Linked DNA regions of Homo sapiens. The protein of the gene in region 1 interacts with the protein of each later gene in a pairwise test. Each region holds a gene or a part of one and is shown on either strand. Other genes may lie near its edges.

Region 1 (7,027 bases):
TTTCCCCATGTGGTGAATACCTTGTATAGCTCCAGTGGTGAGCAAATGAGCATACTGGTTTACCATTTAGTCGTTTTATATTTTAAATGAGTGGTGCTTGCAGTTGATAGTATCCGGGTAAACTGATGCTAGACTAAGACAGCATGTTTGTGGTGAAGTACTTGCAAATAACATTAGAAATCATTGATTTCAGTTTAGAAATAAAACACAAGCTACAAAAATTTTGCTGGTTGATTTATTTTTAAGCACAAAATCAAGAATTCCAACTATGTTACGAACATTTTGAGGCAAGGACTACTTCCTCAGATGTGAATGAGAGTCCATTTCTGCCTGAGCAGCATTCTTTGTAACTAAAAGCCCCACCGGCTGAAATATTTTGAAATATTTTTCTTCAGAAAAGTAGAGAATTTGACTCCTAATTGTGTTCATGGGACTGTTAACATAGATTCAAAACAGAACTATTACTTGCTTCATTTTGGCTATGGTCAGATGAAATAGTAGGTTTTAAAAGGAAATTCCAGTGATAGTACGGAACTAGCTAGCTAGCTAGTTTAACGGATTTATTGTTTTCGGTCACAATTTGACATATTGTTATTTAAATTTTAATGTAAACCTGTGTTAAACTTTTTTATATCAGTTTTTTTATCTACATAGTTAAGTTTGAGGCAGATGTCTGTCATCAGTTGGTAGTTCATTTAACTAGTATTTACTGGAGATAGAATGGAAAAAACTGCTCCTTTGGTTCTCTTAATTTTTGTTTTGTGACGGAGTCTTACTCTGTGATCCATGCCGGAGTGCAGTGGTGGGATCTTGACTCATTATGAACTCCGCCTGTTAGGTTCAAGCGATTGTTGTCCCTCAGCCCCCGGAGTACCTGAGATTATAGGAATGTGCCACCACACCTGGATAATTTTTTCTATTTTTAGTAGACACTGGGTTTCACCATGTTGGTCAGGCCCGTCTCCATGTCCTGGCCTCAAATGAGCCGCTCGCCTTAGCCTCCCAAAGTGCTGGGATTACAGGTGTGAGCCACCCTGTCCGGCAAAACAGATTATTTCAATCTGTTCACATTTTTAAGATGAGAATCAGCTGTGGTCCATTAAATGGTCCATGTACCAAATGATAGCTTTATTATTAATAGATTAACGTCTACTCTGGTGTAGTGTTGACATGTATTACTAGGTTTTTTGAGACCCAGGAAATGTCACTGTTTGCAGCTAATGTCTTATGGTCAGAATTTCCATTTAAGAAGCTTCCCTTTGAAAACCTCTTCTTAGTACATGTCTTGTAATGCTTTTACTTTGGAATTGGGGTAGACATTCTTTGTCTTTTTTTTTTTTTTTTTTTTTGGTGGTGGAGGAGACAAAAGTTTTTACTCTGTCGCCCAGGCTGGAGTGCAATGGCTGTCTGCAACCCCCACTTCCTTCCTGGGTTCAAGCAACTCTCGTGCCTCAGCCTCCTGCGTAGCTGGGATTACAGGTGTGCCACTGCATCCAGCTGGTGTGTTTTGTTGTTTTTTTTTTCTTTTTCTTTTCCTTTTCTTTCTTTCTTCCTTTCTTTTTTTTTTTTTTAAGACGGAGTCTTGCTCTGTCACTGAGGCTGGAGTACAGTGGAATGATCTCAGCTCACTGCAACCTCTGCCTTCCAGATTCAAGCAATTCTTCTGCCTCAGCCCTCCTGAGTAGCTGGAATTACAGGCGTGTGCCACCATGCCCGGCTAATTTTTGTATTTTTAGTATACACGGGGTTTCCCCATGTTGGTCAGGCTGGTCTCAACTCGTAACCTCATGATCCACCTGCCTCCGCCTCCCAAAATGTTGGGATTACAGGCATGAGCCTCCACACCTGGCTGGTGTATTTTGTCTTAATCTGTTCAGGTGATTAATGTCTCTAGAGTGTTTTAATTTCTTAATCTGACTAGATTTTATACCAACACCATCAAGTTTGATTATGGGTGCAGTTACAATTCTCCTAGGGTTTAGTCCTTGTTCCCCTGGTAAAAGATTTTAAACAGCCTAGCCTTAATCAGTAAGTAATCAGCTATTGTTGCCTCATCTATTGTATAGCTTTCTCATAGTGAGAATTTCCGCTTAATTTTTAGCTGGTGCTTGAAGTAGTCATACTGAGCTTCTTAATATATATCCCTTTTAACTTAAAGGTTGTCACACTATGTATGTTTTTTTTCTATTTTCACACTTACCGTCCTCAACATTTTTCGAGGCAAGGACTACTTCCTCAGATGTGAATGAGAGTCCATTTCTGCCTGAGCAGCATTCTGTGTAACTAAAAGCCTTAACTGGCTGAAATATTTTGAAATATTTTTCTTCAGAAAAGTAGAGAATTTGACTCCTAATTGTGTTCATGAGACTGTTACATAGATTCAAAACAAAACTGTATTACTTGCTTTATTTTGGCTGTGGTCAGACGAAATAGTAGGTTTTAAAAAGAAATTCCAGTGATAGTACAGAACTAGCTAGCTAGCTCATTGGTTTAGATACGGGTGCCGGTGAAGGTTTGTGGCTTAGGAGGTAGATTAGATATTTATTTCCATTGGACTGAGGCTTAAGCTCAGTTTAATGCTCATGGATATGGATAACTTATTTTGATTCACCTCCAGAAATTGTCGTTAAGCAATTTGTGTTTGTGCAAGTGTTACCATCTCTCACAAAGGATATGAGTTTCTGAACACTGATATTTTATAGTTTCTGTATCATTATACTTTGCAAGATTTTGGTCAAAAAGACCAAAAGCTTTATGTCAAAATGGGAAAGTAGTGATAATAAAAAGTTACTCAGTATCTTTTTCTTTGCATTAATTCCCATGAATGGATTAAACTAAGAGATTAACCATACTTAGGGGAAATGCAAACTTTTTTCTGTTTTCTTTTTTTTTGAGACAGTGTTGCTCTGTTCCGCATGAGTGCAGTGGTGCAGTCATGGTTCTCTCACCTCCTGGGCTCAACCTGTCTTTCCATCTCAGCTTTCCTTGCTCTTTTAATTTAGGAAAATGTTCCTGTCCATAGCCACTCCTGGGACAAGATTAAACATTGCTTTGTTGAAATAGTGTGGAAACACTTTTAAGTTAACAGAGGAGAGAATTAGCAATGAGATCTTGTAAATGTTTTCACTACAGGAAGATTGGAGATATTACAACTCAGAATAACTTGCCACTATTGTATATATATAAGAGGGAGAATCATGACAAAGGTGATTAATAATATTTTTAAAGTTCTTGACTATCACATTTGTTTTTTAAGAAATATTTGGAGTTAGAACAGTTGGTAGGTGTATTTTTATAGAGTACCTGGGCCTTTGCATTAAGTTAGTTGCATTTTTAAAAAGCTTGCAGAATTGAAGACCTTTTCATACGTTGCCATAGGTTCTTATATGGAAATGACAATGTGGAATGTAGAAAGTTTAGAACTGATGTCCATGTAAGAAGTATTTTGTTCTGTTTTGAATTTTCTCTTTACAAATGTAAGTGTACCAAGCCACTGCTTTGGTGTATCTTTATCAATCACTGGGATACTAAGTTTAAGACATTTGAAATTAAGATTTCTAATAGAAACAGCAATTAGTTGAGCAACCAGTGTTTATTGAGTGCTAAGTGTGTACTGGCCAGTGAATTTAGACATAGGTGAGTAGTGAACAAGATAGACAGTGGTCTCTGCCCTGTTGGAATTAAGCGTAAATTTAGTTAGAAATGATACTACCTGTTTTTATATGAGGTATTTTTTATCAGTAGTATTTATACCCAGCCAACACATTTTGCTATGATTCCCTCAGTTACATGAAATTGCCCTGATTTTATAGATCTGAAATTTTATATGGTTCAACCTTATATCACTAGTTGTAATAATTCGTGTGCTTCTGTGGGTGAAAAGAATCAGAGATTTCGCTAATGCCATATACCACTGTTTATATACCCTTTTAATTGGAACATTTTAAAGAGTATTTGACCGTATGTGAATTGTTTATTGTAATGTATATTTGAAAATAATAAGATCCAAAGGCTATTCATTATAATAAATGCCCTGTTAATACTGACACTAGTACAGAGGAATCATTTATATCCAGTGCCAAAGGCCAGCCAACCATATAATTTGATATATGTTTTATTTTCCTGAGGAAAAGTTGCTACAGTATTACAACTATTTTATGTGCCTAGGTAAAGAAATAATGGGATAAGATTTCTAAACCCCACTGTGGAGGTTTTTGCTGGCCTTCTTAATGAAATTTAATAAAAGGAAACGACTAGAGACAATATTCACTTACTATTTATCATAAGGTCTGTTGAATTGTGCTGAGTTAATGTTAGGTTTGAATGAATTCCATTTTCCTCTTATCCAATAGGATGTACAGTTACCCAGCACGTGTACCTCCTCCTCCTCCTATTGCTCGGGCTGTAGTGCCCTCGAAACGTCAGCGTGTATCAGGAAACACTTCACGAAGGGGCAAAAGTGGCTTCAATTCTAAGAGTGGACAGCGGGGATCTTCCAAGTCTGGAAAGTGTATGTATTATTTCATTTTGTGATTTTGGTATCTCTTGTGTTTTGAGATAGGGAAGCTAATGCAGTTACAATATTTTTGTGCCACATGACTTTGTGTATTCAAAATAATGGAAGAGGCTGGGTGTGTGGTGGCTCATGCCTGTAATCCCAGCACTTTGGGAGGCCCAGCGGGTGGATCAGCTGAGGTCAGGAGTTCAAGACCAGCCTGTCCAACATGGAGGAACCCCATCTCTACCGAAAATACAAAAAATTTGCCGGGGATGGTGGTGCGTGCATGTAATCCCAGCTAATTGGGAGGCTGAGGCAGGAGAATCGCTTTTACCCAGGAGGCGGAGGTTGCAGTGAGCCGAGATCATGCCATTGCACTCCAGCCTGGGTGACGAGCAAAACTCCATCTCAAGAAAAAAAAAAAAATCCAAAATAACAGAGGAGACAAGATTGTGATTGAGTGGCCAATTCTAGACTGCAACAGCTAGGTAATTTAAAAAATGTCATTTGACTTTATGTAGTTGAGGTGTGCGTTAAGTTCCTGAGATTTTTTTGTGTTATTTAAAAACTAAAATTCAGACAGTGTTCAGTATGTTGATTTTTTTTAACTTTTCTATATTGAACTCCTCCTGTAACTGGAAATATGGAAGGCAGTAAAACATTACAGAAGGTCTGATGCAGTGGTGCGTGCCTGTAGCCCCAGATGCTTAGGGGGAGGCTAAGACCCTGGGGATCTAGGCTGTAGTGGGAGGATTTCATGAGGCCAGGAGTTTAAGTTCACTGTGATCATACGTGTGAATAGTCACTGTCCTCAGGCCTGGTCAACATAGCGACAGCCCTGATCTAAAAGACATTAAAAACAATAAAAACCATTACAGAACGTGCTTTATAATAGAACCAAGGGCCTTTATTACCGAGAAATCTGTACTGGCTCTGTTTCTCCCTGGGTATCTCCTGTGAGCTCCTGATGTAGTCTGGTGGCAGTGTATTTGCTAACTCATATCTTCGGTACATTTGATTTTAATCTAGTATTTTGTTTATATTAAAGTGAAAGGAGATGACCTTCAGGCCATTAAGAAGGAGCTGACCCAGATAAAACAAAAAGTGGATTCTCTCCTGGAAAACCTGGAAAAAATTGAAAAGGAACAGAGCAAACAAGCAGGTAAATGGGTTTTCTGCTTGCCCTTGGTATACAGTTGGGTTAGTTACATAAGGCACTTGAAAGTACATGTTGGAATAGTGGAATATAAAGCAATGTAATATGAAACTTGGGGAGTGTGAATTGGGAAGGGTATTTGTGTGGGAGGATTTAGATTTGTGCTGCAGTTCTGTGATCCTTAGTGGGGATTGTCTACGTCCTGTGGACATTACTGCCCCTAGACAGACTTGTCCTTCTCATCCGCAGTAGAGATGAAGAATGATAAGTCAGAAGAGGAGCAGAGCAGCAGCTCCGTGAAGAAAGATGAGACTAATGTGAAGATGGAGTCTGAGGGGGGTGCAGATGACTCTGCTGAGGAGGGGGACCTACTGGATGATGATGATAATGAAGATCGGGGGGATGACCAGGTGAAAACCACGGGAAAGGAAAGAAAAAGGTGGTGGAGGGGGGCTCAGGGACACATGGAGTGCCTCTAACTCCATCCTGTTTGTGTCTGTTTCTCACAGCTGGAGTTGATCAAGGATGATGAAAAAGAGGCTGAGGAAGGAGAGGATGACAGAGACAGCGCCAATGGCGAGGATGACTCTTAAGCACATAGTGGGGTTTAGAAATCTTATCCCATTATTTCTTTACCTAGGCGCTTGTCTAAGATCAAATTTTTCACCAGATCCTCTCCCCTAGTATCTTCAGCACATGCTCACTGTTCTCCCCATCCTTGTCCTTCCCATGTTCATTAATTCATATTGCCCCGCGCCTAGTCCCATTTTCACTTCCTTTGACGCTCCTAGTAGTTTTGTTAAGTCTTACCCTGTAATTTTTGCTTTTAATTTTGATACCTCTTTATGACTTAACAATAAAAAGGATGTATGGTTTTTATCAACTGTCTCCAAAATAATCTCTTGTTATGCAGGGAGTACAGTTCTTTTCATTCATACATAAGTTCAGTAGTTGCTTCCCTAACTGCAAAGGCAATCTCATTTAGTTGAGTAGCTCTTGAAAGCAGCTTTGAGTTAGAAGTATGTGTGTTACACCCTCACATTAGTGTGCTGTGTGGGGCAGTTCAACACAAATGTAACAATGTATTTTTGTGAATGAGAGTTGGCATGTCAAATGCATCCTCTAGAAAAATAATTAGTGTTATAGTCTTAAGATTTGTTTTCTAAAGTTGATACTGTGGGTTATTTTTGTGAACAGCCTGATGTTTGGGACCTTTTTTCCTCAAAATAAACAAGTCCTTATTAAACCAGGAATTTGGAGAAAAAAAAAACCCTGGTTTTTTATTTTTGTATTTTATTATTGTTTACTTCAAACTTTGTTTTACAGCGTCCTCCACAAAACCTCTAGAATGCACTAGATATATTTTTCTTGGA
Region 2 (7,027 bases), on another chromosome or scaffold:
GACAGATGAGCCCCAGCTTGTAAATTAATTGTGTTCTAAAAGTGCATAAGTTAGCTGTTTTAGAAATTACTTGCTCAAAGAAATAAATGATAAATAATGGCTAATTTTCTAAGTAAGCCTACAGTAGTTGAGTTTCCTCATAATACAGTTGAAATATTATATATTTTATAGTTAATATGTTATATATTATATATTAAACATACTTAATGTTATATATTATATATTAAACATATTTAATATGTTATATATTATATATTAAACATATTTAATATGTTATATATTATATATTAAACATATTTAATATGTTATATATTATATATTAAACATATTTAATATGTTATATATTATATATTAAACATATTTAATATGTTATATATTATATATTAAACATTTAATATGTTATATATTATATATTAAACATATTTAATATGTTATATATTATATATTAAACATATTTAATATGTTATATATTGTATATATTAAACATATTTAATATGTTATATATATTAAAAGATATAAGCCAACTCTGAACCTGTGGTGTCACCTCTTTTTTATTTTTATTTTTTGGGACGGAGTCTTGCTCTGTCGCCCAGGCTGGAGTGCAGTGGCGTGATCTCAGCTCACTGCAAGCTTTGCCTCCCGGGTTCACGCCATTCTTCTGCCATAGCCTCCTGAGTAGCTGGGACTACAGGCTCCTGCCACCATTCCCGGCTAATTTTTTGTATTTTTAGTAGAGACGGAGTTTCGCCGTGTTAGCCAGGATGGTCTTGATCTCCTGACCTCGTGATCCATCCACCTCGGCCTCCCAGAGTGCTGGGATTACAGGCGTGAGCCACCGCGCCCGGCTGGTGTCACCTCTTAAATCATAGGGTAGTGGACACGTGAAGCTATTTAGGGTGTTCTTGGCATGAGTTATTTAGCACCATCCCCAAGTCATGTGGCATTAGGAAAATACTTTGGATTGTATAAGAATGACCTAATTTCCTAGGCACCTGGTTAGGGGAAAGTATCAGAATGTAGAAATTGGCCAGGCGTGGTGGCTCACATCTGTAAGCCTAGCACTTCGGGAGGCCAAGGCTGGGATCACCTGAGGTCAGGAGTTTGAGACCAGCCTGGCCAACATGGTGAAAACCCCGTCTCTTCTAAAAGTACAAAAATTAGCCAGGCGTGGTGGCTACTTGGGAGGCTGAGGTGGGAGGATCGGTTGAACCCAGGAGGTGGAGGTTGTAGTGAGCTGAGATGCTGCCACTGCACTCCAGCCTGGGCGACAGAGTGAGGCTTTTTGAATGTAGAAATTGGCTGTTAAGAGGAAGATGATTTTTAGGCTGAAGAAGTCGTTCTGATTTCTGTTTGTCTTAGTGGTACCAGTTCCTGCTGTCATATTTGGTAGGACTTAAGTCCTGTTTGCCTGCCTGTCATCCAGCTAAGTAGACTGGATGGAAAAGGTGGGCTGGGTGGGGAATTAGGAAAGACAGAGGGAATGTCATAGTAGTTTTACTTAAATTTTAAAACATATCAAATGAAAGGTTACGGTGAATTTAGTGAGTGTAAGTCAAATGCTTAAAGAAATAAGCCATGGTGTGAGAATCAAAGCATGAGAAAATAGTATGAAAACTGGAAACACTGTAAGAAACGTGATTTTGTATTGTCTTCCAAATATTTCAAAATTTCTAGAAAAGCGTAAATAAATAAAAACATGATAGATGAGAAAGAAGGCTTATGATCATGATTCAGTGAAGTAACCTTTTTTAACCATTACTAATCTTGCATAATTAAAATAAAATAGAATGTGATGAGATGGGGAATATTGACTGGGGTAAGTGTAACCACACAGCAAATATTCTGTTGTCAAAAAGAACAGTTTTTGTAATTGAAGGATGAGAGCACAAGTCAGTGTATCCATTGTGCAAATTGGATATTTATGCCAGGTAACTGATTAATATATAAAATGATCTATGTTTAATAGGTATGAATGGCTGGATCCAAGCATTAAGAAGACAGAATGGTCCAGAGAAGAAGAGGAAAAACTCTTGCACTTGGCCAAGTTGATGCCAACTCAGTGGAGGACCATTGCTCCAATCATTGGAAGAACAGCGGCCCAGTGCTTAGAACACTATGAATTTCTTCTGTAAGTGAGTCTTCAGAAAGAGCATAGAATATATGTATATGTTCTGAAAGAGGCTGAATAAACTTTGAGTATTTTCTGTCTTTAAACTTTTAATTATGGATGTGAGTAAACCCAAAGCTAAAGCCATTGGATAATATTTTCCATATCTCAGATGGTTGATCAAAATTATGCCTTCTGTCATATACTTCCTAAAATAATAATTTAAAAGAATTATACAAGTCATGCATGTTCATCATAGAAAATCTGGGGAAAAAATAGTAAAAGAGCAAATAAAAGTCACCCATAATCACACTGCTAAGAATTAACTACTGGAACATTTTGGTTCTTTACTAATAGTTTTTTTTTTTTTTTTTTTTTTTTTAAATTTGTATGGCTGTACCGCATTTGTGATTAGGATCTGTTTGGGTTCTATTTTAGAGTGATTGAAACCAGTCACTGAAATCAGCAAATTTTAATATCATTTCTTTCAGATGAAGTGATAGTAAAAAGGCTTTATGTTGTTAAAGCCCATCCATTGGTTTTTTTGGGGGGAAAAATATCGTCAGAACTTGGAAATCTGGTAATTTTAACTCTAAATGGTACTGTAGTGTGACTAACTCCTATGGGCTTTTTTCTAGGGATAAAGCTGCCCAAAGAGACAATGAAGAGGAAACAACAGATGATCCACGAAAACTTAAACCTGGAGAAATAGATCCAAATCCAGAAACAAAACCAGCGCGGCCTGATCCAATTGATATGGATGAGGGTAAGTGTATGCTTTGAGGAATTTATTTCTTTGGTAACTGTAAACTCCTTGGGCCTCACTCTTTTAGTTCCTTTCTGAACTCCTCTACTTTAGAATCCCTTTTTTTTTTGAGACAAGGTCTTGCTCTGTTACCCAGGCTGGAATGAAGTGGCACAATCATGGTTCACTGCGGTTTTGACCTCCTGGGCTTAAGCAATCCTCCCATCTCAGCCTCCTGAGTAGTTGGGACTACAGGTTTATGCCGCCATACCTGGCTAATTTTTAAATTTTTTTGTAGAGATGGGGTCTCCCTGTGTTACCCAGGCTGGTCTCAAACTCCTGGGCTTAAGCTATCCTCCCTTTTCTGCCTCCAAAAGTGTTGAGATTATAGGTGTGAGCCACCATACCTGATCCCCAATTCTGTCAGCAGTGTTCTTATTCTAAGTATCTTTCCAAATATGTCCAGTGTTTTCTGTTATAGAGTAGTTGCTTTTTCTGAACAGCGCCCCTTCATCTTCTGTTTCTTCAATTCAGTTAATTAAGTTAATTAAGTGTTACGGGGTGTGGTGGTATGTGCCTGTAGTGCTAGCTGCTAAGGAAGTTGAGGTGGGTCGATCTCTTTAGCCCAGGAGTTGGAGGCCAGTCTGGGCAACATAACCCCTTGAGCCCAGAAGTTGGAGGCCAGCCTGGGCAGCATAACGAGACCCTGTCTTTAAAACTGAGTAGTGTAATTCTACTGAGTAGATTTTTCAGAGGCTAGAGGTGAGCCCTTGAAGATCCTGTTTCTCATTCCTATTCCATGGAGAGAGACATCAAGTCAGAATATTGGACCTCAGTCCTCCTATTAATTACTTATTTGACTATAGGCAAGTTATTTATTCTGTGTGAGAAGGCAACCTGTGAGACGGTGATGGAGACTTAACAGTGATTCTGGGAGGCATTGAATCAGGAATTCCACAATAGAAAGTATATGGAATCAACCTAAGTGTCCATTAATGGGTGAATGGATAAAGAAAATGTGGACTGGGCATGGTGGCTCACGCCTGTAATCCCAGCACGTTGGGAGGCTGAGGTGGGCAGATCACTTGAGCCCAGGAGTTCAAGATCAGCCTGGCCAACATGGTGAAACCCTGCCTCTATAAAAAAATACAAAAATTAGCCAGGTGTGGTGGCGCATGCCTGTAGATCCAGCTACTGGGGAGGCTGAGGTGGGAGAATCACTTGAGCCCGGGAGGCTGGGTTTGCCATGAGCTGAGATCAAGCACTGCACTCCAGCCTGGGCAACAGAGCAGGACCCTGTCTCAAAAAAAAAAAAAAAAAAAAAAAAAAAAAATGGTATACACACACACACACACACACACACACACGAATACTATTTGGTCATAAAAAGCAATGAAATCATGTCATTTGCAGCAACATGGATGGCAGTAGAAGTCATTATGTTCAGTGAAATAAGCCAGGCACAGAGAGACAAATACTGCATATTCTTCCTCATATGTGGGAGCTAAAAGCGTTGATCTCATGGAGTTAGAATAGAGTGATAGATGCCAGAGGCTGGGTATGGTGTGTGGGTGGGAGAGCGGGATTAAGAGAGGTTGGTTAATGGGTACAAACGTAGATGGAAAGAAATAAGTTATAATGTTTGATAGCAGAATAGGGTGACTATAGTTAGCAACAGTGTATTACATATTTCAAAGTAGCTGGAAGAGAGGTCTGAAATAAATACTCAAGGTGATGGGTACCCCAGATATACTGACTTGATCATTACACATTCTATGCATGTAACAAACTCTCACATGTACCCTATAAATATGTAAAGTATGATGTATCAGTTAACAGAATCAGGAATTGGATTTTCAACCCGTGTGTGCCACCTATTAGCTGTTTGACCTTAGACAAGTCATAAAATCTCTCTGAGCTTTGATTCCCTTTCTTGCGAGATGGGGAATACTAATACCTGCTTTACCTTAGCAGGGTTGTTGTGAAGCACTCAGTGAATATTTGTTAAGTTTCTAAAATGTAAAGTTTGAACATAGTGGTTCCCAAAGGCAGGCTGTGGCTAGGCTGGCTGCATCATTATCACAGGGGGAGCATTTAAAAATAGAAATATCAGGGCTTCTCCTGTATATACTGAGTCAGTACATCTGGGGTGGTGTGGGAGGCACGGGAAGAGCAGTGATCTTGGAATCTGAGTATTTTACAAGTTCCCATGTGATTTAGTTGGACAGCCTTGCATAGGAATTGTTCTAAGGCATCAATAGTGGCATGTATTATTCCATTCTATAGAGCCACGAAAAATGTATTGGATGAGAGAAATTGTTCTGAGGGGAAAAAAAAGTATCTAATGATAGTTGTTCTCTCATAATTAAATAGTTTTTACCCTATTTCACAATTTGTGCTGTGCCAGTTAGTTGATAATAATGAAGGATACAATAATTGTAGCCACTGTTTAATGAATGCTTGCGAGATGCTTTACATATTTCGTTTTACTTAGCCCTTCTCAAAATCCTTGTGAAATAGGAATTGTTATTCGAATTTTATAGGGAAACCATGCTTAGGGAGGGTAAGTAAGTGACTAAGGTCACATAGCTAGCAAGTGGTGGGCCTGGTTTTTAACCTAGGTTCTTTGACTTCAAAACTCAAGCTGTTTCCATTATGCTACACCATAAAATCAGTATTTTTATGTTTTTTTCTCATTTTGAGCAATAGAGTGTCTCTTACATACCTTGCTTCTAGAGTATGTAAGAACTAAGAAAATACTTAGTTTTTCTTCTTTTAATTTTTGCAGATGAACTTGAGATGCTTTCTGAAGCCAGAGCCCGCTTGGCTAATACTCAGGGAAAGAAGGCCAAGAGGAAAGCAAGAGAGAAACAATTGGAAGAAGCAAGGTATGTGTGGATATAGGAATAAAAAGCAAAGTGTTTTTCTCACATAACAATCAACACAGAATACTTCTGTGACCAGATATGTGGTTTTTTTTTTTTTTTCCCCTCTCCACCAGCAATCAGGCAATCAATTCTGCAGTGGATAGCTGGGTGTCCTCTAATTCAGTTAACTCTAATACTGTCTACCTGGAGATAGCTCCAGATCTTACAGGTTGAGGACTTAGTCCCACAAGACTGAACCCCAGTTTTGATGCTGACCCTAAACCCCAGGTTATTTTGCTTGTGTTTCTGACCAGCGAGCTGGGTTCCACTGCCCCTTCCTTGGGTTCCATTCATCTGCTAGAGGACTCACAGAACTCAGGGAAACACCCACATTTACAAAGGATATTTTAAAGGATACAAATCAACGGCCCCATGAAGAGATACACAGGGTGAAGCCTGGAAGGGTCCTGAGTGCAGGTGCTTATGTCCCATTGAAGTTGGGATATGCCACCCTCCCAGCCAGTGGGTGTGTTCTTGTTCACCTTTTCGGAAGCCCCCATGTATTTGGCTGCCCACAAGTTCTCCAGACTCTGTCCTTTTGGGTTTTTATGGAGGCTTCATTAAATAGGCAAGATTGATTACATCATTGGCCATTGCTTATCAACTCGACCTTCAGCCCTTCTCCCCTCCCCTGAGGTTGGGGGTTGTGGCTGAAAGTCCCAAGCCCTCTAATCCTGCCGTGGTCTTTCTGGTGACTGCCAGCTATCAGTCAACTCATTAACATGCAGAAAGACACTTTTCACTTGGAAGAGTCCCAGGATTTTAGGAGTTGCATTGTTGGAAACGGATGAAGACCAAATACATTATTTCACAATGTGTGCTTGTCTCCATTCATAGTTCAATAATTAGTCTAGGCATCCTTAGGACCAATAAAACTGCATGATTTATTAACCCGTTGGGTGAATAATAATTGGAATTGTCCAGTTCCTATTTCGCTAGTATTCTTTACCTTCTTTATTTCTCTGAAACTATCTTGTATTTTTTTCCCCCAACCATTTCAGAATATTTATAGAAAACCATATTTAAAAAAAATTGAAGCTATGGCAGAGGTAATGCCCAGTTTATCCAGTATGTTGAGTGTGTTCTGTTGGCATATGAGAGCTTCATTTGTTGTAGCTATTTTGGAGTCAGATGACTGTAGGACACACAAGATTATGTGTCTTTTGTATGACTGCCAATTAGTTACTTTCCTTGATTGGTATTGGGAAGGCACTGGCTGTGAAACAGGAAACTTGGCTGAACAAAGAG
Region 3 (7,027 bases), on another chromosome or scaffold:
GCTGGGTCTGCTCCTGTGGGGTCATGAGAGCCACACAGCCATGTCTGTGGTATTCTGTATGGGTACACAACCCTGGCCACGTTCCTTGCCTATATTGGTGCTTGCAGCAGGTTCCACCAGAAGGGTTGTTCCTCAACAAGTATCTTTGACTGAGTTCTCAGAATCATCCTCCATCCGTTCCCCCGGTCTCCCCCATACCTGCTCCATGTGACTACAGGTGTACCTTCCAGCTGTGCTGAGGACCTGACTGTGCTCCCAGCATTTCTGCTCTTACTTGCCATAAGGGTGACTTTTTTGGAAGGGCTGTGGTTGCTCTTCACATTTTGGGACAGGAACCCTTGGGTTGCTGGATGCTTCTGCAGAAGGGATGAGAGTATGGAAAAGGGCCCAAGTGAATGCGTTTGGTGCCTTCCAGCAGCCTGAGATTGTGAGAACCACCCCTGTGCACTCTTTAAATGCTTTAAAACGTTTTGTGTATGTGCTGAATTCTTGTAATAAACCCATGGAATAGGCAGGACATGAGTTATTTGGTTGAACTTTCCTTGTCATCAACTAGTTGTCGGTGCCTGAATCCTTGTCTGCATCTAACCTTTTATTTTTTATTTTTGTTTTTTAGAGGTAGGGTCTTGCTCTGTTGTTGCCCAGGCTGGAATTCAAGTGGTGCAATCATGACTCACTGCAGCCTTGAATTCCTGGGCTCAAGCGATGCTCCCACCTCAGCCTCCCGAGTTGCTCAGACTTCAGGTGCCTTCCACCACGCCTGGCTGATTTTTTGTGGGGGGGGATAGGGCCTTGCTATATTGCCCAGGTTGGAGCATCCAGCCTGTTCCTGAATGTTTCCCCTGTTACCCTGACGTAGGTACCACAATGGTCCCCTGTACTGGCCTGAGACACAAGACTAGTTGGCTGGACCTTGGAGAAGTAACTGCATGTCTCTGTTCCTGCCATTGCTGAAAGATCCTGGCTGTGCCATCAGCTTGCCTTGTTACCCTGTTCTTGGCTTCAGTTTCCCCATCTATAAAACGAAGGGGTTGAACTAGCTGATCTCTGTGGTGTCTTCTATTTCGGGCATTACCTCCTCTGGGGAAGAGAAAAACTAAAGAATCTAGTGACCACCTTAGGACATCCTACCCACATTACCAGCTTCAGTAGACAACCTTAATAAGTGGCTCATGGCACCTGATGAGGGAGATCCTTGTGCAGGTAAATGCAGGAGCCCTAAATGAAGCCAGCATTTTATTGCTCTCACAAGTAATGGGGAGAGTAAGGTGAGCTCTTAGTCTTGGAGGTAGATGGTGTTTGTGTTGTGAAGATGAAACTGAGGCCAGGCATGGTGGCTCATACCTGTAATTCCACCACTTTGGGGAGGCCAGGGCAGAAGGATTCTCTGAGCCCAGGAGTTCAAAACCAGCCCAGGCAACATAGTGAGACCTCATCGCTACAAAAATGGAAAAGCTAGCCAGGCATTGTGGTGCACACCTATAGTCCCAGATACTCTGGAGGCTGAGGCAGGAAGATCTCTTGAGCCTAAGAGTTTGATGCTGCAGTGAGCTATGATAGCGCCACTGCACTCTAGCCTGGGAGACAGACCGAGACTCCATTTCCAAAAAAAAAAAAAAAAAAATGAGGCCGGGCATGGTGGCTCGCACTTATAATGCCAGTACTTTGGGAGGCCAAGGCGGGCGGATCACTTGAGGTCAGGGATTCCTGACCTCAAGGAACTCCTTGAGGTGAGGAGACCAGCCTGGCCAACGTGGTGAAACCCTGTCTCTCCAAAAAAAAAAAAAAGAGCTGGGCGTGGTGGCAGACGCCTGTAATTCCAGCTACTTGGGAGGCTGAGGCAGGAGAATCATTTGAACCCAGAGGACAGGGTTGCAGTGAGCAGAGTTTGTGCCACTGCACTCCAGCCTGGGCAACAGAGCGAGACTCCATAAAAAAAAAAAAAAGAAATGAAAAATAAATAAAAATAAGAAACTGAGATTCGGAAAGATGAAGTGGCTTCCTCAGGCCAAGCATGAAGCTAGGAAGCAAACTCCAGTGTAACTAAGGCCTGTTCTCTTTGCCTTTTTTTTTTTTTTGAGACAGGGTCTTGCTCTCCTGCCCAGGATGGAGTGCAATGGTATGATCTCGGCTCACTGCAACCTCCATCTCTCCAGGGTTCAGGGGATTCTCGTGCCTCAGCCTGCCAAGTAGCTGGGACTACAGGTGTGCGCCACCACACCCAGCTAACTTTGTATCTTTAGTAGAGACGGGGTTTCATCATGTTGGCCAGGCTGGTCTCAAGCTCCTGACCGCAAGTGATCCACCCTCCTTGGCCTCCCAAAGTGCTGGGATTACAGGTGTGAGCCACCATGCCCGGCCCTCTCTGCCATTTATGGTATCGTTCTGCCATGCTGGATCGTATCTGGTCTCTGGCTGTGAGTTTCTTCTCTGCAGGGACTGAGGTGTGTAGAGATGGGGGAGGTCTCCAGTGCTTAGACCTGACTCTAGGGACATTGGGAGATGGAAATGTTTTGAGGCTTGGTTCCTGTCTCTAGGGCTTTCTGTAGTCAAGGTGAGGGGTACCTCAGACTGCTGGGAACTATAAGGCGAGGGGTCCTAACGGCCACTGTGGGGCTTCAGAGGAAGGAAAGGGTAGTTGAGGACTCCGGAAAGACCTGAAGGCTGGATACCTTTAGTTAAGGAGTGAGGAAGGGGTGAGCCGAGGGGGCAGTGCAGGCAGCCTTGTGGACGCTTGTCAGGGCCCTGGAGTGGGTGGGCTGGGCGGGCTTGATGGAAGCAGGTGTTGGGCGGCTTTGGAACCTCTTGTTCCTCCCTACATGTGGCTGGTCAGCCTGCGGAGCCCACGCTTCCCCTGCTCCTGGTTTGCCAGTTTCCCCTTTTTCTGCCCTCCTCACTCTGGTGTGGCTGTCATCCTAAACAAGTGTCATACTGAGTGGATGGATGGCAGCACTTACCCACCCATGACGCTGATGAGGCTGCCCTGTGCCGCTCCCCCTGCCCTCACAAACAGCAGAGTCAGGGTGCCTGGTCTCAGGAGCCCTGCTCCTCCGTGAACTCAGCTGTGTGCCGTTGACAAATCACCAAGGCTTTCTGGGTCTCAGTCTCCCTGTCTGTACAAGGGGCTGGGCTTTAAGATGTCATCTGCTGGGGTGGCTGGAATCTAGTAGGAACCAAGGCGGGTGTTTGGGAATCACACTTGCTGTGATTTAGCCTCCCGGACTGCTCCCCACAGAGCATCTGTGCTCAGGCAGACGGGCCCACCAGCTCATCCGTGACTGCCTTGACCACCTGAGAGGTGGCCAGGGACAGGATGGGAGCTGTGGGGTAGCCTTTTGGACTCTATAGAACCTGAAAGATGGAACCCTGAGGAAAAGGGTCATCGGACCCAGAGGGAATCCTGGCTGGAAACGAGTCTTGAGCCAGGATAAGGAAACAGCCCCTACACTCACCCCACCCTACCCCAAGCGGAAACTCTGTGCTGAGAACTTGCTATTTAAGAGGCCTCTGGGGAGGTCTGGCCAGAAAGGAGCCATTTGAGGGAGGGTTTAAAATTAGCCTGGGTGAAATGTGTGGCCCCTGGGGAGAACTGAAGCAGAGGTTTCCGTGGGTCTGCTCTGGTCTGGGTCTTTGACCCAAATCATGTCCTGCTTTCCTGGGGAGGAAGGGGAGGAGAGAAGGGAGTGGTACCGATCTAGGTCCCTCCATCAGGACGCTGGTGGCTGCACTCTTGGCCCATCCTCTGGGGTGAGGTGTTGGAGGCAGACCCTGGGCTACCCAGAGGGCTTGGTGCTCGGGTCCTGTCGTCCTTTCCCAGCACCCAAAGCACCCATCACCTCTGCCAGGCTGGGCACGTAGTAGGAAGACTTGGGTTTTGGGTTTTTTTTTTTTGAGACGGAGTTTTGCTCTTGTTGCTCAGGCTGGAGTGCAGTGGGCCAGGCTGGGCATGTAGTAGGAAGACTTGGGTTTTGGGTTTTTTTTTTGAGACGGAGTTTTGCTCTTGTTGCCCAGGCTGGAGTGCAGTGGTGTGATCTCAGCTCACTGCAACCTCTGCCTCCCGATTCAAGTGATTCTCCTACCTCAGCATCCCTTGTAGCTGGGATTATAGGCATGCGCCACCACACCCAGCTAATTTTGTATTTTTTAGTAGAGACGGGGTTTCTCCATGTTGGTCAGGCTGGTCTTGAACTCCCAACCTCAAGTGATCCACCCACCTCGGCCTCTCAAAGTGCTGGGATTACAGGTGTAAGCCACCACGCCCAGCCTTTTTTTTCTTTTTTTCTGAGATGGAGTCTCACTCTGTCGCCCATGCTGGAGTGCAGTGGTGCGATCTTGGCTCACCACAACCTCTGCCTCCTGGGTTCTAGTGATTCTCTTGCCTCAGCCTCCGAAGTAGCTGGGACTGCAGGGATGGGCCACCACACCTGGCTAATTTTTTGTATTTTTAGTAGAGATGGGGTTTTACCACGTCGGCCAGGCTGGTCTCAAACTCTTGACCTCAAGTGATCCACCCGCCTCAGCCTTCCAAAGTGCTGGGGTTACAGGCATGAGCCACTGCACCTGGCCGAGGCCTGGGTTTTGAGTTCCAGGTCTGCTGCCTTTAAAGAACAAGCCATGTGACCTTGGACAAGTCACTTCTGCTTGGGGATTCACACGCACACCTCAAGGCCCTTACATCAAAGGGCAGAGAGGCCTGCTGGGCTCAGGTCAGGAGCTCGGTTTCACCCATCCTGGATCCTTGGCTATCCAGACCCCCAGATGCTGCCAACAACAAAGCAGGATTCGAGTGGTGTCTCCGTGGGACATGAGCTGCCAGGGCTGTGAGGTGTGAGGTGCCATCACCCCAACCCCGGGCACAGAGGCTGGTATAGTGGTGCCTCTACTGAGGGGAAGACGTGTCCCAAGGGAGAAGATGCGTCCCAAGCGGCCCGAGATTCTGCTGAATGGGCTTGGCAAAAGCTCACGTGAGGTTTGTCTTCACCATGGCTGAGAGTCAAAGTTTAAGAGACAAAGTTTGTCTTCACCGTGGCTGAGAGTCATTCTTGCGTGGGTGGGAGTGGTGACACCAGTAACCAGCAGCTATCCTGGCTGATTTCCTTTGACATTCTTGGCTCTGTTGAGTTCTCTGGGTGCATTGGGTGTAGTTTTACCTAACATTGCTCCAGCTTCCTGAGACAAGCCACTGATAAAAGCCATCGTCTCAGAAAGGCTGTTGTCTGGGGTCAGCGGGCCATCACTAGAGAGCGGAGCAAGTTCTTTGGTACCTCTCAAGAAGGGGATGTGGCCCACTGTAGGGCAACTTAATGCTTTCAAGAATGGCCGCGTGATGGGGTGAGGCATGTGAACTTCTAAAATCTGCAGCGGTGAGTTCAGAAGACCTGTGCTTGGCTTCGCAGGAGGAGATGTGGCCCAGAGCAGGAGTCAAGCGTGTAGGGACGCTCTGCTTGTTCACATTTTTCATTATTCAGGAAGCCACGGTTTCAAAAAATGTTTTGAATGGATCTAAGCTATGGAAAGTCTCCCCTTCCCCATCACAATTTTTGGCTGATCAGGGCTTGCTAGTTTAGCATCCGGTGCCAGCAGCGTTTAAATAGCAGCAGTGGCTACAGTCACAGGATGGACACCTAGTGTTTAGATCTGGCTTGTAACCATGTTGGGGGCAATGCTCAAAATTCACAGCATCAGCCGGGCACGGTGGCTCAATCCTGTCATCTCAGCACTTTGGGAGGCCGAGGTGGGCGGATCACTTGCGGTCAGGAGTTCGAGACCAGCGTGACCAATGTGGTGAAACCCCATCTCTACTAAAAATGCAAAGAATTAGCTGGGCATGGTGGTGCATGCATGTAATCCCAGCTACATGGGAGGCTGAGGCAGGAGAATCGCTTGAACCGGGGAGGCAGAGGTTGCAGTGAGCCGAGATGGCGCCACTGCACTCCAGTCCGGGTGACAGCAAAACTCCATCTCAAAAAAAAAAAAACTCACAGCATCAAATGCTTCACCTGAAGCTGGCAAGATCTTAGCGTGTTCTTCAAAACTCAGCATAATGGTTTTGACTGTTTACCCATTACCCTGTTCAGTCAACATTTAGTACCATCACCATGCTAAGAGCAGGCAGAGAGGCAGGAGTATAAGGTGTTTCTTGACATTGAAGGTCCCACATCTCGTGTAGGAGCAGGAGATGGATGAGAAAGTGCCGGGCCCTCTGTTGAAATCACTGCAGGGGATAGTGGGCATGGGACTCTGTTTCCTTTACATCTTTGCTCCTCCCCTCGACCAGACTGGAGGCTCTCTACCAGGAGGCCATGGGTATCATCTAGAAAACAGATACTTTTTTGTCTGAGGGGCCAGTGGTGCAATGGATTAAAAAAATAGATACATTTTTACATGTACATTTTTGGGGGGTCAGGCACTGCAGCTTTCTTCAGATTTTTAGAGGAGGCTTTGGTTTGAAAAGGCATACCGATTAGCATGGCGTGGTGGTGTACCCCAGTAATCCCAGCTACTCAGGAGGCTGAGGCAGGAGAATCTCTTGAACCCAGGAGGTGGAGGTTGCAGTGAGCTGAGATCACGCCACTGCAGTTTAGCCTGGGCAACAGAGTAAGACTCTGTCTCAAAAAAAAAAAAGAAAAAAAAAAAGGCATGCTGGGCTGGGTTTGTACCCTTATCAAACAGGGCTTTCTTTTTGCCTCTGTTCACCAGCAGACTCAGTCTGTGTGCAGAGGCATCCGGCAGACGCAGCACGATGCCTCTGGGATGTACCCAGAGAAAGGAAAGGGCTTTGAGAAATTGAGTGCTGTGAAACAATGTTAATTTGCCTTGGGTATCCAAGGAGGCCCAGGAAAGGCTGAATTCCTCTAAGCTCTAGAAGGATTCCAGTTGCCTGCCTGAAGGAAGCGCTGTTGTCATCCCTGTCCGTCTTGGGCAGCCTGGCCCTGATCACTGGTCTCTGTCTCCAGGTCCGGACACTGTTTGTCAGCGGCCTCCCTGTGGACATTAAACCCAGAGAACTCTACTTGCTCTTCCGGCC

The links.
Region 2: the proteins of HNRNPC (region 1) and CDC5L interact in binary tests that used the Homo sapiens proteins (3 or more experiments, as listed by UniProt).
Region 3: the proteins of HNRNPC (region 1) and RBPMS2 interact in binary tests that used the Homo sapiens proteins (3 or more experiments, as listed by UniProt).

Annotation. Positions count from the first base shown.
Region 1 is NC_000014.9:21,210,443-21,217,469, reverse strand, and holds part of HNRNPC (heterogeneous nuclear ribonucleoproteins C1/C2), read left to right. Parts: intron 1-4,352; coding exon 4,353-4,510; intron 4,511-5,546; coding exon 5,547-5,660; intron 5,661-5,903; coding exon 5,904-6,064; intron 6,065-6,163; coding exon 6,164-6,247; 3' UTR 6,248-7,027. UniProt on the Homo sapiens protein: Binds pre-mRNA and nucleates the assembly of 40S hnRNP particles. Interacts with poly-U tracts in the 3'-UTR or 5'-UTR of mRNA and modulates the stability and the level of translation of bound mRNA molecules. Single HNRNPC tetramers bind 230-240 nucleotides.
Region 2 is NC_000006.12:44,390,701-44,397,727, forward strand, and holds part of CDC5L (cell division cycle 5-like protein), read left to right. Parts: intron 1-1,966; coding exon 1,967-2,128; intron 2,129-2,745; coding exon 2,746-2,873; intron 2,874-5,640; coding exon 5,641-5,740; intron 5,741-7,027.
Region 3 is NC_000015.10:64,751,568-64,758,594, reverse strand, and holds part of RBPMS2 (RNA-binding protein with multiple splicing 2), read left to right. Parts: intron 1-6,956; coding exon 6,957-7,027.